Homo sapiens: one gene and its partners. The protein of the gene in region 3 purifies or fractionates together with the protein of the main gene of each other region. This does not show direct contact. Each region holds a gene or a part of one and is shown on either strand. Other genes may lie near its edges.

What was found.
Region 1: the proteins of GLMP (region 3) and FDXR purify together in Homo sapiens (affinity purification with mass spectrometry; 2 studies listed by BioGRID and IntAct, with this or other methods). This does not show direct contact.
Region 2: the proteins of GLMP (region 3) and PARL purify together in Homo sapiens (affinity purification with mass spectrometry; 2 studies listed by BioGRID and IntAct, with this or other methods). This does not show direct contact.
Region 4: the proteins of GLMP (region 3) and TUBB3 purify together in Homo sapiens (affinity purification with mass spectrometry; 2 studies listed by BioGRID and IntAct, with this or other methods). This does not show direct contact.
Region 5: the proteins of GLMP (region 3) and TRUB2 purify together in Homo sapiens (affinity purification with mass spectrometry; 2 studies listed by BioGRID and IntAct, with this or other methods). This does not show direct contact.
Region 6: the proteins of GLMP (region 3) and LARS2 purify together in Homo sapiens (affinity purification with mass spectrometry; 2 studies listed by BioGRID and IntAct, with this or other methods). This does not show direct contact.
Region 7: the proteins of GLMP (region 3) and SLC25A20 purify together in Homo sapiens (affinity purification with mass spectrometry; 2 studies listed by BioGRID and IntAct, with this or other methods). This does not show direct contact.

Annotation. Positions count from the first base shown.
Region 1 is NC_000017.11:74,870,195-74,874,429, reverse strand, and holds the start of FDXR (NADPH:adrenodoxin oxidoreductase, mitochondrial isoform 1 precursor), read left to right. Parts: upstream 1-1,435; 5' UTR 1,436-1,485; coding exon 1,486-1,564; exon of another isoform or gene 1,565-1,661; intron 1,662-2,113; coding exon of another isoform or gene 2,114-2,232; intron 2,233-2,296; coding exon 2,297-2,394; intron 2,395-4,235. UniProt on the Homo sapiens protein: Serves as the first electron transfer protein in all the mitochondrial P450 systems including cholesterol side chain cleavage in all steroidogenic tissues, steroid 11-beta hydroxylation in the adrenal cortex, 25-OH-vitamin D3-24 hydroxylation in the kidney, and sterol C-27 hydroxylation in the liver.
Region 2 is NC_000003.12:183,874,881-183,878,380, reverse strand, and holds part of PARL (presenilin-associated rhomboid-like protein, mitochondrial isoform 1 precursor), read left to right. Parts: intron 1-93; exon of another isoform or gene 94-229; intron 230-3,500. UniProt on the Homo sapiens protein: Required for the control of apoptosis during postnatal growth. Essential for proteolytic processing of an antiapoptotic form of OPA1 which prevents the release of mitochondrial cytochrome c in response to intrinsic apoptotic signals.
Region 3 is NC_000001.11:156,292,880-156,297,051, reverse strand, and holds the start of GLMP (glycosylated lysosomal membrane protein isoform 1 precursor), read left to right. Parts: upstream 1-1,372; 5' UTR 1,373-1,406; coding exon 1,407-1,526; exon of another isoform or gene 1,527-1,755; intron 1,756-2,035; coding exon 2,036-2,293; exon of another isoform or gene 2,294-2,376; intron 2,377-2,486; coding exon 2,487-2,687; intron 2,688-2,815; coding exon 2,816-3,034; intron 3,035-3,341; exon of another isoform or gene 3,342-3,434; intron 3,435-3,475; coding exon 3,476-3,732; intron 3,733-3,842; coding exon 3,843-4,008; coding exon of another isoform or gene 4,009-4,040; 3' UTR 4,041-4,172. UniProt on the Homo sapiens protein: Required to protect lysosomal transporter MFSD1 from lysosomal proteolysis and for MFSD1 lysosomal localization.
Region 4 is NC_000016.10:89,929,842-89,933,341, forward strand, and holds part of TUBB3 (tubulin beta-3 chain), read left to right. Parts: intron 1-2,729; coding exon 2,730-2,838; intron 2,839-3,500. UniProt on the Homo sapiens protein: Tubulin is the major constituent of microtubules, protein filaments consisting of alpha- and beta-tubulin heterodimers. Microtubules grow by the addition of GTP-tubulin dimers to the microtubule end, where a stabilizing cap forms.
Region 5 is NC_000009.12:128,312,448-128,315,947, forward strand, and holds part of TRUB2 (pseudouridylate synthase TRUB2, mitochondrial), read right to left. Parts: exon of another isoform or gene 3,379-3,500; coding exon of another isoform or gene 3,375-3,378; exon of another isoform or gene 3,182-3,374; coding exon 3,120-3,181; exon of another isoform or gene 2,977-3,119; intron 1,801-2,976; exon of another isoform or gene 1,651-1,800; intron 1,459-1,650; exon of another isoform or gene 1,443-1,458; coding exon 1,361-1,442; exon of another isoform or gene 1,104-1,360; intron 1-1,103. UniProt on the Homo sapiens protein: Minor enzyme contributing to the isomerization of uridine to pseudouridine (pseudouridylation) of specific mitochondrial mRNAs (mt-mRNAs) such as COXI and COXIII mt-mRNAs.
Region 6 is NC_000003.12:45,521,076-45,524,575, forward strand, and holds part of LARS2 (leucine--tRNA ligase, mitochondrial), read left to right. Parts: intron 1-2,921; coding exon 2,922-3,033; intron 3,034-3,500.
Region 7 is NC_000003.12:48,885,383-48,888,882, reverse strand, and holds part of SLC25A20 (mitochondrial carnitine/acylcarnitine carrier protein), read left to right. Parts: intron 1-3,500. UniProt on the Homo sapiens protein: Mediates the electroneutral exchange of acylcarnitines (O-acyl-(R)-carnitine or L-acylcarnitine) of different acyl chain lengths (ranging from O-acetyl-(R)-carnitine to long-chain O-acyl-(R)-carnitines) with free carnitine ((R)-carnitine or L-carnitine) across the mitochondrial inner membrane, via a ping-pong mechanism.

The DNA of each region.
Region 1 (4,235 bases), on a different chromosome or scaffold from region 3:
CAAAACCAAAAACAAAAACCCCAAAACCTCCAAAAAAACAAAAACAGTAAAAGCCATTCTTGTTGGTCATCCAAAACATGCTGGTGGACAGTATTTGGCCTGCAAGCTATAGTTTGCCTACTCCTGGTCTAGTGGGACAGGCATAAAACACAGTGACCTATTAGAAAGCAGACAGCATTTACTTACCAGTGGGAGGGAGGGGAAGTGACCAGTAAGGGCACAGAGGACTCCTGGGATACTGGCCATGTTTTATTTCTTGATCTGGGTGGTGGTTATATGGTTACACCTTGTGATATATTGTCAAGTTGTACACTCATGATTTGTGCACTTTTCTGTATGTTATTATTGAATTTAAAATCTCATTAAAAACGACAACCAGTGTAGTAAGTCATGATGGGATAAGGTCAGATGCTGTGGAATGAGAGGCCTTTAACTCCTTGGAACTTGGGAGGGGACGGGTCAGAGAAAAGGCTTCTCCAAGGAAGTAATATTTGACAAGAGGGCCCATGGGGAAAAGGAAGAGGGGTTAGGCTTATTGGGTCAGCTGTGACTACGGATCCTGTCCTTATTTTTAAAAACATTTTGATCATAGACTTTTTGCATTACTTTTGACCTTTTAAAACGTTGCAGTATTATATTTATCTTGATTACTGAGTGTTTTGGAGCCCCCTTAAATTCTGAACCCGAGGGGAGTACCTCAACTCTGGTCCCGGCTCGGCTGCACGGGGGTCGGACGCTCTGTCCTTAGTACCATACGTAAGCCACTGCCCCGCCCCGCTTTTCTTCACCTATGTAATGGGAAAGGAGGTGAGGTGGGACGAGCTTTCCAGGGTTTAATATTCTCCCTGGCCCGGCAAAGACGGGGATTTGAGGGGTTACATCGGCACAACACCCGGGGTCGAAGAAGGAGGCTGCTGGGCTCCGGGAAGGAGCTCCCTCGCCCCAGACTTCCGCACTCTGGTTATTTCCCAACGGCGGGAAGGCTCGCTTGGAGCCGGACTCGTGATTGGCTAGGACGAAGTCACGTGGGAGGATTCGCAATCAAATGGCAAGGGCGTCTGCGTCATCAGTGAGCGACGAGAGCCTCCCGAGAGGGGCGCGGCTAAGTAAAATAAGCTCCTTTCTTAGTGGCTGTTTCCTTGGGGAGGGACTGAAACAGCGATGGGGATTCGCTCTCTTCCAACCCTAGGCTTCCGGGATTTGGAGGGAAGGTGAGGCCTGGGGAGAAATGTATTAAATCGCGTATACCCCGGATGCTCCGAGGGGCGGGGCTTCGACGGTGGGGCGTAGTTAAGGGCGGGTCTCTCTTTTGGGGGCGGGATTCTCTCGGGAGTCGGGGTGGAGCCGCAAGGCTCCGCTTTCCCGGAGCGCAGGGGGCGGGGTTTGGGGCGGGGCCTCGCTTGTGGGCGGGCCCGGGCAGGAGCGGGCTTGCCCTGCGGAGCAGTAGCTAGGAACAGATCCACTTGCAGGTTGCTGCTCCCAGCCATGGCTTCGCGCTGCTGGCGCTGGTGGGGCTGGTCGGCGTGGCCTCGGACCCGGCTGCCTCCCGCCGGGAGCACCCCGAGTAGGAGCAGGGCGCCTTTGGGGCTGGATGGGAGCGCGGGGAGGCCTGCGAGCGCTGAGTAGGGGTCGGAGCAGAGCTGGGGCAGGGCTGGAGAAGGGTGAGACTGAAGGGGTGTCTTCCTGCTGGCGAGATCCCGGTGGTGTACGGGGGTGGGCGGAGATCTGTGCGTGAGATGTGAGGCTTCTAGGGTTAGAGACGGAGGTCAACAAAGGTGAAAAGGAGAGACTTTGAGATCTACAGGTGTGAGACGGGGTGAATGGAGGATGATACGGAGGTCTGTGGGGCGAGAGGAAAGTCTGAGTCGAAACAGGGATCTGTAGGAATAAGACGGGTCTATATGGGCAATATAGCGTTTTGTGGAGAGAGAGAGGGGTTAGAGGAGGGACACCGTGGGGAGACCCACGGGGGCGAGATTGGGATGATATGGAGGCCGTTGGAAGGATGTGGGATTCTAGCCGATTGGATAGGGAATGAAGTGTTGTTGGGCAGGCCATTGGCAGTGGTGTAGTAGGTTCATGGGTGAGATGTGGGCTCTGGATGAACCCACAGCCTTTGGGGGTTCAGATGAAGTAAGAGACCCTGCAAATGCCAAAGCCTTGAGGAACAAGAGAAGGAGGATGCAGGTGAGGGTGAAGCTTGGGAAGTTCCAGCTTCTGTTGGATATTCAGGTTGGTTTGGGACTGGGGAGAGAAGTTAATTTTGACCTTTTCCCTCTCCTCTGCCTGGCCCCAGGCTTCTGCCACCATTTCTCCACACAGGAGAAGACCCCCCAGATCTGTGTGGTGGGCAGTGGCCCAGCTGGCTTCTACACGGCCCAACACCTGCTAAAGGTAAGCCACTTACTCATAGTCCATCATTCACCTGCTGCTCCAGTCCTAAGGGCAAGCCTCACCCGCTTTGGGTTTTAAGAGCACTCCTGGTTGCCTTATGGGGAAGGGGCTCCCAGCCATCTGGCCTGGACACTTCCCACTTGCTTCCTCACCTACACCTGAGGCTCCCCTCCCCTCCCGTCCTCAGTGTGACAGGGGTGTAAAACGCACATTGGTGGTGAGTGGTCAGTGGCAGGTGGTCAGCTTTGCCTCCCTGGCCAAGCACTCCAGGGGGCTTATGTAGACCTGCAAAATGACTTTGTCCTCCTTCATCTTCCCTCCTCTCTCGTCTATCTTCACTCTATCCCAAACATCCTACATCTCGAGGCTACCCACCTCCTCCGCTTTCTGTAACTTTACCTGCCTTGCCATGCCCTCCTCACCCATAGCTCCAGTCCTCCGTGCCATTCTGTTCTTTCAGCCTGCCCTCTGCCCCTCCCCCTTCCCCTGTGAAGGCCAGGATCTCAAGGCTTTCAGTGTCTGCCTCGGCAGGAAGGGCCCCAAGCCAAGGCTACAGGTTCTACTTGAGACTCCACATCAGACTTTGGGACAGAGTAGAGAGGGGATACCCAGGTTAACTGAGACGTGAGACAGTTGCCTAGCTTTGGAGAGGCTTGGAGTGTCCGTGGAGAGACAAGAGAAAGGATGAATATCTTAATTATACACACACACACAGATGCTTGAAATGTAGGGTGACCAACTGGCCTGGACTGCCCAGGACAAGGGGCTTCAGCGCTAAGCTGGAAGTTCTTGGGAAACTGGGATGAGTTGATCACTCTGCTGAAAAGTGACCCGTGCATGCTTCCCAGGCAACACGGGTGAAAGAGCTAATTACAATAATGTGGGCAGCGTGAGCCGAGGCAGGTGGGGTCAATCAGAAACTGTTTCCTGGGCCGGAAGCCCAGGTGGCTCATGTCTGTAATCCCAGCACTTTGGGAGGCCAAGGCAGGTGGATCACTTGAAGTCAGGAGTTTGAGACCAGCCTGGCCAACGTGGTGAAACCCCATCTCTACTAAAAATAGAAAAATCAGCCACGTGTGGTGGCACAGGTCTGTAGTCCCAGGTACTTGGGAGGCTGAGTCGGGAGGATCGCTTGAACCCAGGAGGTGGAGGTAGCACTGAGCCAAGATCAAATCACTGTACTCCAGCCTGGGCGACAGAGTGAGACCCTGTCTCAAAAAAAAAAAAAAAAAAAAAAAGAGAGACAGTGCATTTGAGCTGCCTTGAAGCAGACCAAGGGCTTTGGTGAGGGCCTCCCACATGTGGGGAGTCATCCTGGAATGCAAGGCCTTGGGCACGCTGCCATGTGGGAGGGAGGACAGCCTGGGCTCTGGGATGGAGATCAGGGAGCACATGGGGGCTGGAGAGGCCCTGAAGGGCTTTGTATAAGGGACAGTTTTTTTTTAGCTGATCCTGACATTTTGGAAGGGAGGAGAGTAAGCTTTCCAGGCAGTGTTCTTTTTTTTTTTTTTTTTTTTTTGAGATGGAGTCTGGCTCTGTCGCCCAGGCTGGAGTGCAGTGGCACAGTCTCAGCTCACTTCAACCTCCATCTCCCAAGTTCAAGCGATTCTCCTGCCTCAGCCTCCTGAGTAACTGGGATTACAGGCGCACTCCACCACATGCAGCTAATTTTTGTATTTTTGGTTGAGACAGGGTTTCACCATGTTGATCAGGCTGGTTTTGAACTCCTGACCTCAAGTGATCTGCCCACCTCGGCCTCCCAAAGTCCTGGGATTACAGGCGTGAGCCCCCGCGCCCGGCCAGGCAGTGTTCTTAGCACGACTGTATTCAGCTGGCAGACA
Region 2 (3,500 bases), on a different chromosome or scaffold from region 3:
TCCCTATTCCTTGCAGCTGGGTTGGACTTGCGGCTTAGTTTGATCGGTAGCATGTGGTGGAAGTAATATTGTGCAAGGTCCAGAGTCGGCCTCAGAAGACCTTGCAGCTTTTGCCTTTGCCCACTTGGAACACTCCCTCTGTCATGGTAGAAGCCCCCGCTAGACTACTGAACACCAAGGACTGGGCGGTGAAAGAGCAAGCAGACAACAACCAGCACTAAGGCTCCAGGTACGAGTGAAGCCATCTGAGACTCTCCAGCTCTGATTAAGCAGTCAAGAGTACTGGCTGGGGCTGGGCGCGGTGGCTCACGCCTGTAATCCCAGCACTTTGGGAGACCAAGGCGGGTGGATCACTTGAGCTCAGGAGTTCGAGACCGGCCTGACCAATATGATGAAACCCCATCTCTACTAAAAATACAAAAATTAGCCAGGTGTGCTGGTGTGTGCCTGGAGTCCCAGCTACTCAGGAGGCTGAGACAGGAGAATTGCTTGTACCTGGGAGGTGGAGATTGCAGTGAGCCGAGATCATGCCACTGCGCTCCAGCCTGGGTGACACTGTCTCAAAAAAAAAAAAAAGTAATAAATTATGGTTTTAAGCCAGTGCATTTTAGAGTGGTTTGTTAAGATGTAGATACCTTAATTTTAAAATGCTTTATTACTAAAAAATTCTAATAATCATCTGAGCCTGCAGTGAGTCATAATCTTTTTGCTGGTGGAGGGTCTTGCCTCTGTTGATGGCTGTGGACTGATCAGAGTGGCGGTTACTGAAGGTTGGGGTAGCGGTGGCAATTTCTTAAAATAAGACAACATGAAGTTCGCCACGTTGATTGACTCCTCCTTTCACAAAAGATTTCTCAGTAGCATGTGATGCTGTCTGATAGCATTTTATCCACAGTAGAACTTCTTTCAGAGTAGGAGTAAATCCTCTCAAACCGTGCTGCTGCTTTATCAGCTAGGTTTATGTAATCTAAATCCTTTGTTGTCATTTCAACAGTGTCCACAGTGTCTTCACCAGGAGTAGATTCCATCTCAAGAAACCACTTCCTTTGCTCATCCATAAGAAACAACTTCTCATCTGTTCAAGTTTGATCATGAGATTGCAGCAATTCAATCACATCTTCAGGCTCCACTTCTAATTCTAGTTCTCTTGCTCTTTCTTTTTTTTCGAGATGGAGTTTCACTCCTGTCACCCAGACTGAAGTGCAATGGCACGATCTTGGCTCACTGCAACCTCTGCCTCCTTAGTTCAAGCGATTCTCCTGCCTCAGCCTCCTGAGTAGCTGGGATTACAGGCACCCACCACCATGCCCAGTTAATTTTTTTGAATTTTTAATAAAGATGAGGTTTCACCATGTTGGCCAGGCTGGTCTCGAACTCCTGACCTCAGGTGATCCGCCCGCCTCGGCCTCCCAGGGTACTGGGATTACAGGCATGAGCCACTGCACCCAGCCTCTAGTTCTCTTTCTATTTCTACCGCATCTGCAGTTACTTCCTCCACTCAAGTCTTGAGCCCCTCAAAGTCATACTTGAGTGTTGTAATCAACTTCTTCTAAACTGTTAATGTTGGTATTTTGACCTCCTCTCATGAATCATGAGTGTTCCCGATGACATCTAGAATGGTAGATCCTTTCCAGAAGCTTTTCAGTTTACCTTGCCCAGATCCATCAGAAAAATCACTCTGTGGCTATTGCCTTACAAAATATATTTCTTTTTCTTTCTTTCTTTCTTTCTTTTTCTTTTTCTTTTTTTTTTTTTTTTTTTTTTTTTTTTACAAAATGTATTTCTTAGGGGAATAAAAAAAGAAAATATATTTCTTAAATAATAAGACTTAAACGTTGAAATTCCTGCTTGATGTATGTGGTTGCAGAATGGACATTGTGTTAGCAGGCATGAAAACAATATTCATCTTCTTGTACCTGTGCATCTGAGCTCTTGGGTGACCAGATACATTGTCGATGAACAGTAGTATTTTGAAAGGAATCTTTTTTTCTCAGCATTTGGTCGCAACATTGGGCTTAAAATATTTGGTAAACCGTTTGGGCACAGTGGATTGCGCCTATAATACCAGCACTGTGGGAGGCCAACACGGGCGGATCGCCTGAGATCAGGAGTTCAAGACCACCCTGGCCAACACGGTGAAACCCCATCTCTACTAAAAACACAAAAATTAGCCGGACATGATGGCAGGCGCCTGTGATCCCAGCTGCTCGGAGGGTTGAGGCAGGAGAACTGCTTGAACCTGGGAGGCGGAGGTTGTAGTGAGCTGAGATAGTGCCACTGTACTTCCAGCCTGGGCGACAGAGTGAGACTCCATCTCAAAAAGTAAAAATAAACAAATAAAAAATATTCCATAAACGATGCTGTAAACAGGAGTGCTGTAATCTAGGCTTTGTTGTTCGATTTGTAGAGCACGGGCAGAGTAGTTTACCATCATTCTTAAGGGTTCTAGGATTCTCAGAATGGTAAATGAGCATTGGCTTCAACTTAGTCACCAACAGCATTAGTGCCTAATGAAGTCAGCCTGTCCTTTGAAGCTTTGAAGCCAGGCATTGCCTCCTCACCTGTAGCTATGAAAGTCTTAGATGGCATCTTCTTCCAATAGAAGGCTGTTTTGTCTGCTTTGCAAATCTGTTTAGTGTAGCCACCTTCATCTTAGGATCTTCTTGATAAGTTGCTGCAGTTTCTACATCCACACTTGCTGCTTCAAGTTGTACTTGTGTGTTATAGAGACAGCTTGTTTCCTTAAACCTCATGAACCAACCTCTGCTAGCTTCAGACTTTTTTCCTGCAGCTTCCTCAATTCTTTCAGCCTTCATAGAATTGAAGGAGTTAGTCTTGCTCTAGATTGGCTGTGGCTTAAGGGAATGTTGTGGCTGATTTGATCTTCTATTCATGTAATTTTTTCCATGTTGGCAATAAGGCTGTTTTGCTTTCTTACTCTATTTTTTTTTTTTTTTTTTTTTTTGGAGACAGAGTCTTGCTCTGTCGCCCAGGCTGGAGTGCAGTGGCACAATCTCAGCTCACTGCAGCCTCCATCTCCCAGGTTCAAGCGATTCTCCTGCCTCAACCTCCCCAGTGGCTGGGATTACAGTCGCCCGCCACCACGCCCAGGTAATTCTTGTATTTTTAGTAGAGATGGAGTTTCACATTGTTGGCCAGGCTGGTCTCGAACTCCTGACCTCAGTTGATCCTCTCGTCTTGGTCTCCCAAAGTTCTAGGATTACAGATGGGAGCCACCACACCCAGCCTACTATTTTTCTCTTCTCAGGAGTAGCACTTAAAATTTCCTTCAGTAGTTTTGCTGTTGTTGATACAGAGTCTAGTTCTGTCATCCAGGTTGGAGTGCAGCAATGCATTTGTAGCTCACTGCAACCTTGACCTCCTGGGCTCAAGTGATCTTCCTGCCTCAGCCTCCCAAGTAGCTAGTACTATAGGCGCAAGCCACCACACTTGGCTAATTTTTAAATTTTTTATAGAGACAGGATCTCACTATGGTGCCC
Region 3 (4,172 bases):
ATAAATAAATAAAATAAAATCAGAGTGAAGTGAAGAAAACAAACACTCCAAAGTTTTCTACAACCCTTTTAAATTTCACCAAATTTTAGCCCGTTCTTTCTTTCTTTTTTTTTGAGATAGAGTTTTGCCCCTTGTTGCTCAGGCTGGAGTGCAATGTCGCAATCTCGGCTCACTGCAACCTCTGCCTCTTAGGTTCAAGCGATTCTCCTGCCTCAGCCTCCCAAATAGCTAGGATTACAGGCGCCTGCCACCATACCTGGCTAATTTTTGTATTTTTAGTAGAGACGGGGTTTCACCATGTTGGTCAGGCTGGTCTCTAACTCCTGACCTTAAGTGATCCACTCACCAAGGCCTCTCAGAGTGTTGGGATTACAGGCGTAAGCCACTGTGCCCGGCCTAGCCCCTTCTTTCTCTCTCTCTCTCTCTCTCTCTCTCTCTCTCTCTATATATATATATATATATATATATATATTTTTTTTTTTTTTTTTTTTTTTTTTTTTTTGAGACGGAGTCTCGCTCTTGTCGCCCAGGCTGGAGTGCAGTGGCACAATCTTGGCTCACTGCAACCTCTACTACCCGGATTCAAGTGATTCTCCTGCCTCAGCCTCCCGAGTAGCTGGGGTTACAGGCGCCTGCCACCGGGATTACAGGGCCCTGCCACCGTGCCCAGTGAATTTTTTGTATTTTTAGTAGAGACGGGCTTTCACCATCTTGGCCAGGCTGGTCTTGAACTCCTGACCTTGTGATCCACCTGCCTCAGCCTCCCAAAGTGCTGGGATTACAGGTGTGAGCCACCGTGCCCGGCCTTTTCTTTCAACATTTAACAAATAAGTTGGCTTTTTTGGAAGTATGTTGTTGTCATTTAGTGACACATCTCTAAATATTTACAATTTTTGTTGAAATGTTAGGCAGGGAAGAAGAACCACATTGTTCCACAGGGAAGAAGAACCACAGAGTTTCATGTGCTGGAGTAGAAAGAAGGTGTATGAGTTCCACAATGGGACAGGGTTGGGAACTTAAGGCAATGTACTGGAGTAGTTCCCTGTTGGGTTTATTTTCTTTAACCTGTCTTTGTGTCAAAATGAGATTTCACGTTCCTCTTAAAACATGCCGTTTGAATACTGTGTTTTTGGCATTGTCCAAGGAAAACTGAAAACTTGTAGCATGAATGTTTTTTTTTTCACTTAAAATCTTGTGACCATATTAAATTGTATTACTTGTAAGAGACTGACGTTTCCTGTTTTAAGATAGAATACAAAGCTGTTCTTTAATACATTAAATGGTGCTGACGAAAGGAAATTTTTTTAAAAAGCAAATAGTTTGGCGGCTCCGCCCTTGAAAGGGATCAGCTGAACGCGAGTCATGTGACCCTCTGGCACCTCTTCCGTCGGCTGAATTGCGGCCGTATGCGCGGCTCTGTGGAGTGCACCTGGGGTTGGGGGCACTGTGCCCCCAGCCCCCTGCTCCTTTGGACTCTACTTCTGTTTGCAGCCCCATTTGGCCTGCTGGGGGAGAAGACCCGCCAGGTGAGGGCCCTGGGGCTACAGCGATAGAAGTTTCAGGAAACGCTACCCTTGCAGGGTGGCTGGAACCGGGCATCCAGGGGCTAGGGGTGGAGGGTGGCTGCCAAGAGGAGGGTTCTTCAACCTGGAGGGTGTGGGAGATGGTCATGGGTCATGGGACGGGATTGTGGAGTAGGGCAAATGTGAGGGTGATGTCTGGACCCCGACTCAGCCCTGGGTGACCCAGGTCCAGGCAAGTGTTGAATGTTTTCTTCTTCGCAGCCCTGTGCCCTGACCCGCCCACCAGGGTCAGGGGAGTCCTGGCTGTACCCTCTACCCTACCCCTTTTCATCCTGTCCCCACTGCCCCTTACCCCAGGGTTCCCTCAGCTCCCGCACACATTCCTCTTGTCTAGTCCCCAAAATCCCATCCTTTGTCCAGCACTTTCCAAGCCCCCCTCCCCTCAAGCTTCTCTTTTGCCTGTGTCTCTCCTTGGTCCTGTTCCCTCAACCCTCCACTACTCCATGTTCCAGGTGTCTCTGGAGGTCATCCCTAACTGGCTGGGCCCCCTGCAGAACCTGCTTCATATACGGGCAGTGGGCACCAATTCCACACTGCACTATGTGTGGAGCAGCCTGGGGCCTCTGGCAGTGGTAATGGTGGCCACCAACACCCCCCACAGCACCCTGAGCGTCAACTGGAGCCTCCTGCTATCCCCTGAGCCCGATGGGGGCCTGATGGTGCTCCCTAAGGACAGCATTCAGTTTTCTTCTGCCCTTGTTTTTACCAGGGTGAGGAGGTTGGGAGAGAACCAAGGAGAAGAGTGCAGAGGAGAGAGTTCATCCCAATTAGAGGGTGGAACTAAAGACTGGGGGTGGGTGAAATAGACTCAGATATGAAAGCCTTGGTAGGGGGTGAGTGGGAGGTGTGGTCTCGGGAGAAAAACTGAGGCAAGCCCAGTTCCACCCTACCCCCACCCTCCAGCTGCTTGAGTTTGACAGCACCAACGTGTCCGATACGGCAGCAAAGCCTTTGGGAAGACCATATCCTCCATACTCCTTGGCCGATTTCTCTTGGAACAACATCACTGATTCATTGGATCCTGCCACCCTGAGTGCCACATTTCAAGGCCACCCCATGAACGACCCTACCAGGACTTTTGCCAATGGCAGCCTGGCCTTCAGGGTAAGGCGTGAGAAATCGGAAAGAGCTCAAAAAGGCTGATTTGTGAGGGTGGGATTTAATGATGGAGGTGGCCCTTAAGCACAGGCATCCAGCTATTTCCCACACCTCCCATGCTTCTTCCTTCCTAGGTCCAGGCCTTTTCCAGGTCCAGCCGACCAGCCCAACCCCCTCGCCTCCTGCACACAGCAGACACCTGTCAGCTAGAGGTGGCCCTGATTGGAGCCTCTCCCCGGGGAAACCGTTCCCTGTTTGGGCTGGAGGTAGCCACATTGGGCCAGGGCCCTGACTGCCCCTCAATGCAGGAGCAGCACTCCATCGACGATGAATATGCACCGGCCGTCTTCCAGGTCAGGCTTCCTGGAGAGAGGCAGATGGGTGAGGAATGTAGGTGGGACACCATTGGGACCTAAAACTCATTCAACCATTTGCCATTTAGCAACACTTTCTTTGGGTCGTTTAAGAGCTAGGCACTGTGCTAATGAATCTGACCCAGTCTCTGCCCTCAGTGGAGACAGACAGAAAGTGCAATATGACTTACACTCTGGCAGATGGAGATCTGCAAGGGGGCTAGGGGCCAAGAGGAGGGCTGAGTCCAGACTTGGAGGTTTGGAAAACAACTCAGTCCTCACCCAGTCGAACTCCCCATTTTTACAGAGGAGGGATTGAGGCCCTGCCTAGGACTCAGGACTCCTGCTGCTAGTCACAGAATAAGGCTGGGAGTGGCAAGGAAAAGAGGGTCGGGCACAGGTTGGTCCTCTTTACCCTCCCTTGTTTGCCTTTCTTCCCAGTTGGACCAGCTACTGTGGGGCTCCCTCCCATCAGGCTTTGCACAGTGGCGACCAGTGGCTTACTCCCAGAAGCCGGGGGGCCGAGAATCAGCCCTGCCCTGCCAAGCTTCCCCTCTTCATCCTGCCTTAGCATACTCTCTTCCCCAGTCACCCATTGTCCGAGCCTTCTTTGGGTCCCAGAATAACTTCTGTGCCTTCAATCTGACGTTCGGGGCTTCCACAGGCCCTGGCTATTGGGACCAACACTACCTCAGCTGGTGAGAGCCAGGGTTTGGGCCGGGGACTTGGGGAGTTGAAGTGGACAAAGGCTGAGCCTCCCAGCCTTTCCTCCTAAGCCCGCTTACCTCTCTCTCTCTGCTTGCTCTAGGTCGATGCTCCTGGGTGTGGGCTTCCCTCCAGTGGACGGCTTGTCCCCACTAGTCCTGGGCATCATGGCAGTGGCCCTGGGTGCCCCAGGGCTCATGCTGCTAGGGGGCGGCTTGGTTCTGCTGCTGCACCACAAGAAGTACTCAGAGTACCAGTCCATAAATTAAGGCCCGCTCTCTGGAGGGAAGGACATTACTGAACCTGTCTTGCTGTGCCTCGAAACTCTGGAGGTTGGAGCATCAAGTTCCAGCCGGCCCCTTCACTCCCCCATCTTGCTTTTCTGTGGAACCTCAGAGGCCAGCCTCGACTTCCTGGAGACCCCCAGGTGGGG
Region 4 (3,500 bases), on a different chromosome or scaffold from region 3:
AGGTGCTCGCCACCACGCCTGGCTAATTTTTGTATTTTTAGTAGAGACAGGGTTTTGCCATGTTGGCCAGGCTGGTCTTGAACTCCTGACCTCAGATGATCCACTGCCTCAGCCTCCCAAAGTACTGGGATTACAGGCGTGAGCCACCGTGCCTGGCACAAGCAGTTTTCTCCCCTTCCTTCCTTCCTTCCTTCCTTCCTTCCTTCCTTCCTTCCTTCCTCTCTCTCTCTCTTTCCTTTCTTTCTTCCTTCATTCCTTCCTTCCTTCCTTCCTTCCTTTCTTTCTGACAGTCTCGCACTATTGCCCAGGCTGGAGTGCAGTGGCGCGATCTCGACTCACCACAACCTCTGCCTCCTGGGTTCAAGCAATTCTCCTGCCTCAGCCTCTCGAGTAGCTGGGAGTACAGGTGCGCGCCACCATGCCTGGCTAATTTTTGTATTTTTGGGAGAGATGGAGTTTCACTATGTTGGCCAGGCTGGTCTCGAACTCCTGACCTCGTGACCCACCCGCCTCTGCCTCCCAAAGTGCAGGGATTATGGGGGTGAGCCACCGTGCCCAGCTATGAGTGGTTTTGTTTCTATTTATTTATTATTATTCTATGAGACAGAGTCTCACTCTGTCGCCCACGCTGGAGTACAGTGGTGCAATCTTGGCTTACTGCAACCTCCGTCTCCTGGGTTCAAGCAATTCTTCTGCCTCAGCTTCCGGAGTAGCTGGAACGTGTGAGCCACCACCCCTGGCTAATTTTTGTATTTTTAGTAGAGACAGGCTGGTCTCGAACTCCTGACTTCCGGTGATCTGCCCACCTCAGCCTCCCAAATTGTTGGTATTACAGGCGTGAGCCACCGCACCTGGCCTCTATTTATTTATTTATTTTGAGATGGGGTCTTGATATGAATTCCTAGACTCATGCTTCTCATGCTTGCTACCACCCAGTCCTGCCTCCTGCACAGCAGTTTCCACTAAAGTCACCCCTTTACGAGAGGCATCTTTTTTTTTTTTTTGAGATGGTGTCTCACTCTGTCGCCCAGGCTGGAGTGCAATGGCATGATCTCAGCTCACTGCAAGCTCCACCTCCTGGGTTCAAGTGATTCTCCTGCTTCAGCCTCCCGAGTAGCTGGGACTACAGGCACCCGCCACCATTCCCGGCTAATTTTTTGTATCTTTAGTAGAGACGGGGTTTCACCATGTTAGCCAGGATGGTCTCGATCTCCTGACTTCGTGATCCACCCGCCTCGGCCTCCCAAAGTGTTGGGATTACAGGCATGAGCCACTGTACCTGGCCTACTAGAGGCATCTTAAAACACATCTCCTGTGTCTCCATTCCAAAGCGCATCTTTGTCTACACTCCTGGGGTCCTCCCACGTCAGCCTCCCAAAGTGCTGGGATTACAGTCATGAGCCACTGTGCCCGGCCCCACCAAATTGTTTTCTAACCTGCTTTTTTCTTGAGGAATCTTCTGCAGCACATGACTCACATGTAGAGCCCCTTGTTTCTTGAGGCCTTCATACCCGTCAGCTCATCTAAAAGTCACTCCTGAGGAGTAAGGGCAAGGGGCATTGGGAGAGGTCAGGCAGCCCTGGGAAGCCTCCCAGCGTGTGTCCCAGGAGGCCTGCTGCCTGCAGACACTGCTCCCAGACGCAGCGGCCTCGGCCATCAGAGCGTGTCCCACGATGAGGTGGCAACTTCCCTGAAGGGCTTGCTCTCACCCAGGGGTGTGGTTCTCCGTGTGCACACAGATAGATAGTTCTACGTTTGCCATATACCATTTATATGCCTCACACAGATTAACCCACTTTCATTTCAAAAAGACCTCCTGTCATCGTGCCCATTGTACAGATGAGGACACTGAGACACGGAATCCTAGTGACCTGTGCAAGGTCACACAGCTGGGAAGGGTGAGGGAAGCGTCTGTGAACCCAGCAGGCCCAGCCCCTGAGTCTAGGCTCCGCTCGGCAGCTGTCATGGGAGCAGAGTCCGAGAAGCACTGCAGGCACCTGCTCTAGGGGGAGAGAGGTGGAGGTGGCAGGTAGAGAGAGGACGACCCCTGGGAGCTGAGACGATGCCAGCCTCACACGGACAGGCTGGGTGACCTCAGGCAAGTCGCTTCCCATTTGGGACCCCAAGGACCCTTCTGCAGACCCAGCTGGGGGTCCCCGATGAGACTGGCTCTCAGAGTCCCTGTGAGTCCCGTCAGCTGAGGCCAGTAATGTCCTGGCACCATCACTGGACATGGTTTGCTCTCCCATGGAGGGGCAGGTGTAGCAGCCAAAAGCGATCCTGAGCTCTGGGCCTCTGAACCCTGCTCTGCCAGCTACTGTGGGTGTCTCTACCCGCTCTGTGTCTCAGTTCCCTTTCCTGAAAAGAGGGGATAGTAAAAACTAACCCTCAAGGTGTTTATTACCAATGCCCTTCATGGAGGAATCCGCTGCTCCAGGCCCTTGCCAGCAGCTGCACAGCTGGGCCTGGGGACCTGGGTGTGGGTCTGTTGAACCTTGGCCCACCCTGGGGCTGTGGTCGGCCTGGACGTGTAGGTGTGGAGGTGCATATTTATTATGGCAATTTTCTGACAGGTAACAGAGTGTGGGGCTCTCTTCTGAATGGGGCTCGTGGAGGCCGTGGGTCAAAAGCCCTAATTTTGTAGTGAGGGCTAAAAGGCTTCACAAGGGAAAGGGCCTGGCTGGGGCTATGGGCCGGTGCCGACCCCCCCTCTCCCACTTTGTTTGCAGTTCTGGGAAGTCATCAGTGATGAGCATGGCATCGACCCCAGCGGCAACTACGTGGGCGACTCGGACTTGCAGCTGGAGCGGATCAGCGTCTACTACAACGAGGCCTCTTGTGAGTGCCTGCCCCAGCCTCCCTATCCCAGCCCTGGACTGACCAGGTCTCAGCGTCTGACTGACCAGGTCTCAGCACCTGGACTCACCAGCTCTCAGCATCTCTGTCCTCCCATGGGTTAGGTTGGCTGAGATGCCAGCAGGCGTAACTGGATGTCAGGCATCCAGACGCACAGAACAGACAATAAATCACAGTCACAAAAGTGAGAGCCAAACATATTAGTGCCATGAGGGCCTGTGCGTGTCCAGGGGCACAGACAGGGATGGGGCAGGCCAGAGACTTTGGAGGCCATAAGAGGGCCTAGAGAAGGGGTCACCTGGAGGGCTTAGTCAGGGGCTCTTTAGCAACTGGTGTGAAGTGATTTCCATATCAAAGTGGTGATACACCCACCTGCCCACATGGACATGTGATTTAAAATTTTATTTAATTTAATAGAGACAGTCTCGATATGTTGCCCAGGCTGGTCTCGAACTCCTGGACTCAAGCGATCCACCTGCCTTGGCCTCCCAAAGTGTTGGGAGTGCAGACACGAGCCCCTGCATCTGGTGGACGTCTGACTGAATCCTGCCTGTCCTGCTCCGTCCTGTCCTGCTCCGTCCTTAAACACAGTGAGGCTTAAGGGTGAAGAAAGTTGCTGAAGCTTGCCTTTGGTCCAGGACTCT
Region 5 (3,500 bases), on a different chromosome or scaffold from region 3:
TGAGATGGAATCTCGCTCTGTTGCCCAGGCTGGAGTGCAGTGGTGAGATCTCAGCAAACTGCAAACTTCACCTCCTAGGTTCAAACGATTCTCCTGCCTCAGCCTCCCGAGTACCTGGGATTATAGGCGTGCACTACCATGCCCGGCTAATTTTTTGTATTATTATTATTTTTTTTTTTTTTTTTTGAGACGGAGTCTCGCTTTGTTGCCAGGCTGGAGTGCAGTGGTGCAATCTCAGCTCACTGCAACCTCCGCCTCCCAGGTTCAAGCGATTCTCCTGCCTCAGCCTCCTGAGTAGCTGGGACTACAGGTGCCTGCCACCACGCCCGGCTAATTTTTGTATTTTTACTAGAGACGGGTTTTACCATATCAGCCAGGCTGGTCTCAAACTCCTGACCTTGTGATCCACCCATCTCGACCTCCCAAAGTGCTGGGATTACAGGCGTGAGCCACTGCGCCCGGCCTCTTTTTAAAATTTAGAACAGTAGCCAGGCGTGGTGACTCACACCTGTAATCCCAGCACTTTGGGAGGCCGAGGTGGGCAGAATACCTGAGGTCAGGAGTTCCAGACCAGACTGGCCAACAGGGTGAAACCCAATTTCTACTAAAAATACAAAACATTAGCTGGGTGTGGTGGTGTGCACCTGTAATCTCAGCTACTCCGAAGGCTGAGGCAGGAGAATTGCTTGAACCTGGGAGGTGGAGGTTGCAGTAAGCCAAGATCGCGCCACTGCACTCCAGCCTGGGCGACAGAGCGAGACATCGTTTCAAAAAAAAAAAAAGAAAAGAAAAGGAAAGGCTGGGCGCGGTGGCTCATGCCTGTAATCCCAGCACTTTGGGAGGCCAAGGAGGGCGGATCATGAGGTCAGGAGATCCAGACCATCTTGGCTAACATGGTGAAACCCCGTCTCCCATCTCTACTAAAAATACAAAAAAAAAAAAGCCGGGCGTGGTGGCGGGCGCCTGTAGTCCCAGCTACTAGGGAGGCTGAGGCAGGAGAATGGCGTGAACCCGGGAGGTGGTGCTTGCAGCGAGCTGAGATCGTGCCACTGCACTCCAGCCTGGGCGACAGAGCGAGACTCCGTCTCAAAAAAAAAAAAAAAAAAAGAAAAGAAAAGGAAAAGGTCAAAGACTGACGAGATGGAGAGAAACTAGAGTCTTTGGAAGTGACGTTACATTTGAGCTAGGCAAGCAGGGGAGTAGAGGATGCTCCTGGAGCACAGATCCCGTGGCCAAAGCCTCAGCCCAAGCCTAGTGTGTGCAGTGGAACTGAGAAGGGGCCAGCGTGGCCTAGGGCGGGGAGAGGACTCAGGGAAAGCAAATGCGGAGGGAGGCAGCGGCAGCCACTTCCGGTTCTCACCATAGGTTGTCTTCTCTACCAGCCTCCCGTCCTCACGGAAGTCATCTGTAGCTTTGCCCAGGAGGCCACGCACTGTGTAATCCTTCAAGGACAGGGAGGTAAAGATCCGTCAGTGACCCCATTCTAAGCCCTAGTAGCCCCTGCCCCAGAAGCTGGGGGTGGGGGGTCCTCAGGTCTCCCTCAGGAAGCTCATGTGCCCAGCCCCTGCCCAGCTGCTCCACAGCCCCAGGAGGAAGGGCACCAGCTCTGTCATGTGGCCTTCAGCAGCTCTTGCTCTCTTTGTATTCAAGCTCTCCTGTCACCTGGGGACAGTAACAGGGCCAGTCTCACAGTACTGCTGCCTGGATTCAGCAGGACATGGTACCTGGCTCCCAGTCAGCAGGCTTCCTACAAGACTGCTGGCTGGTTTCCATGACAACCAGCACTGGCAGCCTCCAAAGGTACTGACCGCTGACAGCCACCCTGTGGCCACCCCAGGCCTCCATGTTTCTCCTCTCCAACCTAACTCGGCAATTTATCACCCCGAGCCCCTTCTAGCATGCCCTGTAGGCTTCTCTCCACGCCTCTAAATAGAATGAGATTCCATGGCCCAGATCAGGCCCTTGCTCATCCCTGCTTGTAAAAACTCCCCCTCCTCTGAATCTGTGCAGCTAACCCCATCTGCCACAGATAAGTAATGATTGGCTGGATACAGTGACTCACACGTATAATCCCAGCACTTTGGGAGACAGAGGCGGGTGGATCGTCGAGTAGCTGGGAGGACAGGCATGCGCCACCAGCCTGGCTAATTTTTTTGTATTTTTAGTAGAGACAGGTTTTCACCATGTTGTCCAGGCTGGTCTTGAACTCCTGGCCTCAAGTGACCCACCCACCTCAGCCTCCCAAAGTGGCAGGAGCCACTGAGCCCGGCCACAATTTTTAAAATTTTTATAATTTAAAAAAATTTTGTAAATAGAGATGGAGTCTTGCTATGTTGCCCAGACTGGTCTCAAATTCCTGGGCTCAAGCAATCCTCCTGCCTCAGCCTCCCAAAGTACTGGGATTACAGGTATGAGTCACCACACCTGGCCCTCATTCCCATTTTACAGATGAGGAAACTGAGGCACACAGATATTAATTAGGTAATCTACCCAAGGACACACAGCTGTCAGAGTGGTAGAAGCTGGGGTTCAAACTGAAGCCATTTGGCTCCAGAATTTGTGCCCTTAACCACTAAAAACATGGGCCCCATAACGTGGCACCTGCGTACATACTTTGTGGTATCAGACTCCATAGCCCCGACCCCACCTCTGGATGGTAAGCTCCCTGTGGGTAGGATGCTGACATCTACCTCTCAGTCTTGGGACAGAATAGGGAATGGCATCATGATCAAGCTCTGGTGTTGGAGAGACCTAGGTTCAAATCCCAGCTCTTAAAGCCCTAACAACTACATGACCTAGGTAAGTAACATCTCCTCTCTGAGCCTCAGTTCTCTCATCTGTGAAATGTGGCTAACAACAGATTCCACTTTACAGGGAGGCTGTGAGGCTTCCCTAAAGGAATCCACGTACAGTGCTCAGCACAGAGTAGTCGGCATACACTAACACTGGTAGTTATTATTGTTATTATTATTACAGCCCCTGCACAGCACACGATCATCAAAAAAATGCTTGCTTATGGCTTGGGTGTTCCCCCACGGAATCCTCTAAGCTTCAGAATCCTGCTGGTGACCCCCAGGAAAGGACCAAGGGAGAAGCAGGCTGTCCCCAGACCCTCGTACCTTGGTAAGATGAGCATTGTACATATCGGTGAGGAGCCTGCATCCATGTCCCACGCCGAGCACTGAAAAGCAGCCAGCGTCATCTCACACCTGGGACCCCCTTCCCATTCCCCTAAGTATCCCCACCCCTACCCCCACCATCAGAATACTCCCTTTTCTGATGCTGCCAAAGGCAACAAGAAGGCAAAAAGATCTTCTACAGGGGGCAGGTGCACCCCTCTGGGTATATATCACATGCAGATTGCTGGGCCTTACCCATATGCACTGAATCTGACTCATGGTTGGAGGGGGCCTAGGATCCCTGCCAAGCTCTCCACAGGATTCTGACACCTGAGAGGAAGAGATCCCTGGCCTAGTCACACAAACCTGCACTCAAATCAG
Region 6 (3,500 bases), on a different chromosome or scaffold from region 3:
AGGCGGATCACGAGGTCAGGAGATCAAGACCATCCTGGCTAACACAGTGAAACCCCATCTCTACTAAAAAATACAAAAAATTAGCCAGGCGTGGTGGCAGGCACCAGTAGTCCCAGCTACTCAGGAGGCTGAGGCAGGAGAATGGTGTGAACCCAGGTGGCGGAGCATGCAGTGAGCCAAGATCACGCCACTGCACTTCAGCCTGGGCGACAAAGCAAGACTCCGCCTCAAAAACAAAGTAAAAAAATAAAATAATTAGCCTGGCATGGTGGCATACAGCTGTAGCTGTAGCTACTCGGGAAGCTGAGGCGAGAGGATCGCTTGAACCCATCCTGGGCAACAGAGCAGGAGACTCTGTCTCTAAAAATAAAATTAAAAGGGTAATTTTTAAAAAGTAAAATAAAGATAAAAAAGAACAATGGAAGAAATTTCAAATTTGACTACATAAAACTTGACATTTTCAGTATGTTAAAAAAATTTATAACATGTCAGACAGAAGGTTAATATCCTTGTAAAGCACTCTTACATATTAATATGAAAATACCTAACCAAAAATGGTCAAAGCATATGAAAAGATAATAACTCATAGAAAATGTTATAGAAATAGCCAATACATTTGTGGAGAAAAAAAAGTCTGCCTCTCTAATTATCATGAAAGGCAAATTTAAAACAAGATGCTTTTGTTTTTGTTTTTGTTTTTTTTTAAATACCTGTCAAATTTGCTGAGAATACTTTAACGTAACTATTCAGGGCCAGGCACAGTGGCTCATGCCTGTAATTCCAGCACTTTGGGAGGCCGAGGCAGCAGGATCGATTGAGCTCAGGAGTTTGAGACCAGCCTGGGCAACATAACAAGACTTCATCTGTAAAAAATTTAAAAATTAGCCAAGTGTGGTGGCATGCACCTGTAGTTCTAGCTACTCAGGAGGCTGAGGCGGGAGGATCCCTTGAGCCCAGGAATTTGAGGTTGCAGTGAGCTGTTTGGTGCCACTGTACTCTAGCCTGGGTGACAAAGCGAGACTCTCTCTCAAAAAAATAAAAATAAAGGCATAATTATTCCCCATGCTATTGCAAAGATGGCAGAATAGACTTTTACACGCCAGTGATAGGTGTGGTTGGTGTAACCTTGCCAGGAAGCACTTCGGCTATCAGGTTGATTGTGTTATATCCTCTGATCCAGGAGTGTTCACTGCAGATAATTTATAATCACAGAGACTCGGAACCCCAGTGTCCTCTGATGGGGGAATTGTGAAATGACTTATGTCATATCAATAAGAAAGGAATGTGCCACCACCATTAACCTCATGTCTTGAAGAATACTTAATATCAGAAACTGTTTATGATATAATGTTAAGTAAAAACACATGACACAAGGCCAGGCACAGTGGCTCACGCCTGTAATCCCAGCACTGCGGGAGGTCAAGGCAGATAGATCGCTTGAGGTCAGGAGTTCAACACCAACCTGCTCAACATGGTGAAACCCTGTCTCTACTAAAAATACAAAAAATCAGCCAGGGTGTGGTGGTGCACACCTGTGCACCTGTAGTCCCAGGCACTCAGGAGGCTGAGGCAGGAGGATTGCTTAAACCTGTAGGCAGAGGTTGCAGTGAGCTGAGATCACACCACTGCACTCCAGCCTGGGCAACAGAGAGAGACTCTGTCTCAAAAAAAAAAGATACAAAAGTGTTCATATGAGCTGGGTGCAGTGGTTCACACATGTAATCCTAGCATTTTGGGAGGCCAGGGCAGGCAGATGGCTTGAGCCCAGGATTTCGAGACCAGCCTGAGCAATATAGTGAGATACCCCATCTCTATTTAAAAAAAAAATTAATTTTTAAAATTAAAAAAAAGGAAGTGTTCATATGGCAAGAATACCAATCCTGAAAATGTTACATGTGTAATAAGCATTTATATACACATTTTTGCATTTTTGGAGACAAGGATAAAATATACCTTTTTTTCTAGGTTGTATAATTATGAGTAGTTTTTCATTTCCTGTATATTCTGTGCTGAGTGTGTGTTAGTTTTTTAATCAGAAAAAATAAAGCAAGACACTGAAATGAAACTGTAATGAATTTCTGTCTTTCCATTCCGGAATTTGGGAAGTCCTTAATAATAACACACAGAGCTAAACACAACTATGTTTGCCGGAATTGACCAAAGGTATTTCAGAGAATAGGGGTCCCTAAGTAGGGTATAGAGGCCCCCCTGCCCTAGGTGTTTCACAGTTTAACACCTTTGAGCAGGTCTCAGTGCATTTCTCTGTGGACCTGCAGCACAGAGGAAACCTAGCAGAGTGGGTAAGAGTTTGGCTACAGTGTGCCTGGGGGCAGATTGCCCTCCCTTGCTGATCCTTAGCTGCTTCATCTGTCCAATGGGGTAAGAATACCACCCTCAAAGAGTGGTGAGGACTAAATAAGTTAACATCATGTATTTGTTGTTGCTGCTGCTGGAGCTTTTTTTTTTTTTTAAAGATAGGGTCTCACTGTTGCCCAAGCTTCAGTGCAGTGGTGCAGTCATAGCTCACTGCAGCCTTGACCTCCTGGTCTTAAGTGATCCTCCCACTTCAGCCTCCTAAGTAACTGGGACTATAGGTGTGTGCAACTGTGCCTGGCTAATTTTTTTTTATTTTTTAATTTTTCATAGAGATGAGGTCTCACTATAGTGCCCAGGCTGGTCTCAAATTCTTGGCCTCCCAAAGTAGTGGGAGTATAAGTGTCAGCTACCACACCTGGCTTGCTGTAGTTTATCTCAGTGCTATCATTAAGTAGGGGAAGTTCATTGTCCCAAGCAGAAATGGATGGCAAAGGGGGTTTCTTCCTACCAGCTTGTGTCTCTGGACTTCAGATACATTAATGGTCTTTCTTACCCGTGCTTATTTTTACACCTCAGTCTTCTTACTTTTTTTTCCTCTTCCTTAGCAAGCCTCTCAGAGCGTCATTCTCCACAGCCCCGAGTTTGAGGATGCTTTGTGTGCCCTGATGGTAATGGCTGCTCCACTGGCCCCTCATGTAACCTCAGAGATCTGGGCAGGTACGTGGCAGAGTCCTTTTTTGACCAGTTACTACTAACTAGAATTTGTCGAAGCCTCTTTTTGAACATCATTCGGGACTCAGATGTCCTCAGATATAGGGTCCAACATTTGGCATCTATACTCAGCAACCTCTCTGTCCTGTACTCTGAATGGTAGTACTTCATCCACATGGTCACCCCTACCAAAAGGAAAGACACTTCCCTGCTTTGAATAATGTGCCCAGACTAATGTGGGTGTTGATGTTACCATCTTAATCCCTTCTCGTGACTCAGCCCCCCAGTATCCACATATTATGACCTGCGTGGTCTTTTTAAGATAAAAACTCATGTTTAATACCACTGTACAGGTGGAAATTAAGTTATAGGTCTAAACTTACACTGTAATTCAGCACTCTTCACCAATTATTCCTAATCTAGGCATCAAAGCAGGCCTGACTGCCTGCTTGAATTTCAGCCCCTAGAACCCT
Region 7 (3,500 bases), on a different chromosome or scaffold from region 3:
GATCTCCTGACCTCATGATCCACCCGCCTCAGCCTCCCGAAGTGCTGGGATTACAGGCATGAGCCACCACGCCTGGCCCTAAAATATAACTTTCATATAAACACTCTATTATAGTCTCTAAATTTATAGCCTTGATTAAATATACAGAAACTAAGTAGTAGTCATCCAGATAAAAAGGGAGTGATAGTAAGTGATGGACTCAGCCTTGGCGAAGTTGTTCCCAGGATTCCTGTAGGACTTGGGTGCAGAAGGAAGATCTTTTTAAACTATTTATTTATTTATTTATTTATTTATTTATTTATTTATTTATTTTGAGACAAGAGTCTTGTTCAGTTGCCCAGGCTGGAGTGCAGTGGCGCAATCTCGGTCACTGCAAACTCTGCCTCCCGGGTTCAAGTGATTCTCCTGCCTCAGCCTCCCGAGTAGCTGGGATTGCAGGCACCTGCCACCATGCCCGGCTAATTTTTGTGTTTTTAGTAGAAATGGGGTTTTACCATGTTGGCCAAGCTGGTCTCAAACTCCTGACTTTGTGATCTGCCCGCCTCAGCCTCCCAAAGTGCTGGGATTACAGGCATGAGCCACTGCATCTGGCTTAGGAAGATCTTGAGGCAGTGCCTGCCCAACCGTCCTTGAGTGAGGTGGTGCTACCCTTCTTTTTTTTTTTTTTTTTTTTTTCGAGATGGAGTCTTGTTCTGCCACTCAGACTGGAGTGCAGTGGTCCGATCTTGGCTCACTGCAACCTCCACCTCCTGGGTTCAAGTGATTCTCCTGCCTCAGCCTCCCAAGTAGCTGGGATTACAGGCACCTGCCACAATGCCCAGCTCATTTTTATAATTTTAGTACAGATGGGTTTTGCCATGTTGGCCAGCTGGTTTTAATCTCCTGAGCTCAGGTGATCTGCCTGCCTCAGCCTCCCAAAGCGCTGGAATTACAGATATGAGCCACCACGCCTGGCCTGCCCTTTCTTCTTCTTCTTTTTTTTTATGGAGTCTCATTCTGTCACCCAGGTTGGAGTGCAGTGGCACGATCTCAGCCCACTGCAACCTCCGCCTCCCGGGTTCAAGCAATTCTCCCTGCCTCAGCCTCCCGAGTAGCTGGGACTACAAGCGTCTGCCACCATGCCCGACTAATTTTTGTATTTTTAGTAGAGATGGGGTTTCACCATATTGGCCAGGCCGGTCTTGAACTCCTGACTTCGTGATCTGCCCTCCTTGGCCTCCCAAAGTGCTGGAATTACAGGCGTGAGCCATGGCACCTGGCCTTGTTCTTTCTTCTTTAAGCTCCTCCTCCTTACATCTCTAGTGCCCAGGGTAGAGTCTGAGCAGTGTCTGATGGAGGTTCTAGGCTTCAGGTCCACTTAGAGTCCTCTGCCCTTACAGAAGGAAGGTAGGCTTACCTGCCTCTTGGTCATTAGACGTTATTGAACACCTGCCTAGGGGTGGGCAATGTGCTGGGTCCTGGAGTTGTGGTGAGAATGTCTTGTATAAACCCAAGTCTTTGAAGAGTTGAATAGGCTTCCTTAGTCCATATTTGTGCATGTCCTGGTTTTTCCTGTGCCAGATTTGAGCTTTCTGCTTTCTGGAGCTGCCAGGCAGGGGTCTGTAGGTTGTGAAACATGGAACTGGGTTGGCCATTCTAGTGGAAGGAAGACTAGACAAGTTGTTCAGGAGGAATGGGCTTGACCTCTCAGGACCTGGTCATCCTTTTAGCTCATGTAGGGAGCTGTGGGAATGGCTTTGAATGGACTTTGTCATATGCTACTTTTGCAGATCCTCCTCAGATCTCTGTCCTTTTCCCATTTACTGCCTCTGTACTTTGTTCTTGGAGTCCACCTGCAGCCTGCAGCAGTTTAGGCTTTTGCAGGAATTAGGAGGAATGCTGACAGGTACAGTTGTGCCACTTTGATTCTGAAAAGAAAGTTTGGATACCCAGGGTCTGCAGTGAGGCAGGTTCTTCAGCCTGGGTCTGTGGAGCCCTGCCAGTGTGCAGCCTCACCCTGATTCTCCTGCTACTCTCTATAAGGAGAAACTTTAAAATTTTTTTGTATTTGTTTTAAAAAAATGGTTTTGAGATGGGGTCTTGCTATTTTACCCAGGCTGGTCTTGAACTCCTGGGCTCAAGTGATCCTCCCGTCTCAGCCTCCTGCGTACCTGAGATTATAGGCCCTGATACAGGCACTTCATTTGTTACTGAGAAGCTTATGACAAAGTAACAAAGTGATATTTATCTCTTTCCTTCATTCTCCAGAGGCAACTACTTTCAATTTTTTCAGTTGTTTATGCTGTTTCCACCTATCTACATAATATACATTTACTATTATATTTTATTTATTTATTTTTATTATTATTATTTTTTGTTTGAGACGGAGTTTTACTCTTGTTGCCCAGGCTGGAGTGCAATGGCGCGATCTCGGCTCACTGCAACCTCCGCCTCCCGGTTCAAGCGATCCTCCTGCCTCAGCCTCCTGAGTAGCTGGGATTACAGGCATGTGCCACCACGCCTGGCTAATTTTGTATTTTTAGTAGAAACAGGGTTTCTCCATGTTGGTCAGGCTGGTCTCGAACTCCCGACCTCAGGTGATCCGCCCGCCTTGGCCTCTGAAAGTGCTGGGATTACAGGCATGAGCCACCGCACCCGGCCATTACTATTATATTTTATACATTTTTATATTTTTTAGCTACCTATTTGTGGTACATTATTTTATATTTTAGCTCTTAGTCTCCCTATCCCCTCCTTCTGCCCTGCCCATCCATATGATTTTATCACCCTTTGTGGTTTAATCCAATTCACCATTTTCATGATTACAACTTTATATATATTTTTTCTCTTAAGTAAGTATGAAGTATGATGTGCATTCCATTCCTTGTGTAACTTCTTGTTTCCCTTGGGATTGGGTTAATAATTGTGTTAAATCTTTTGTTTTGTTTGTCTTTGAATCACTGTCTCTGTCATTCTGTACCCTAAATGCTCTGTAGTGTACCTTTCTGTTTGGTTTGCTACACACTGCCTAAGGAGTTATTTTCTGTTGTTCTAGTGTGTATTGTTTTGTTCTGTTTTTGTTTTAGTTTAGTTTTGTTTTTTTGAGATGGAATTTTGCTGTGTTGCCAGGCTGGAGTACAGTGGCACAATCTCGGCTCACTGCAACCTTTGCCTCCCAGGTTCAAGCGATTCTCATGCCTCAGCTCCTGAGTAGCTGGGATTACAGGCATGCACCACCACACCCAGCTAATTTTTGTATTTTTAGTAGAGGCGGGGTTTCACCATGTTGGCCATGATGGTCTTGATCTCCTACCTTGTGATCCGCCTGCCTTGGCCTCCCAAAGTGCTGGAATTACAGGCATGAGCTACTGCACCCAGCCTTGTTCTGTTTTTCTTGGAAACATCGCTTTTGGAGTCCTCTACTGCCCTGTGGACTGACTGCTTCCCAGGTCCACTGCACCCTGTGCCATCCTAGAAACGCATTTCATCTCTCTTGGACTGGCCCCCTGGTCTCCCAGGTC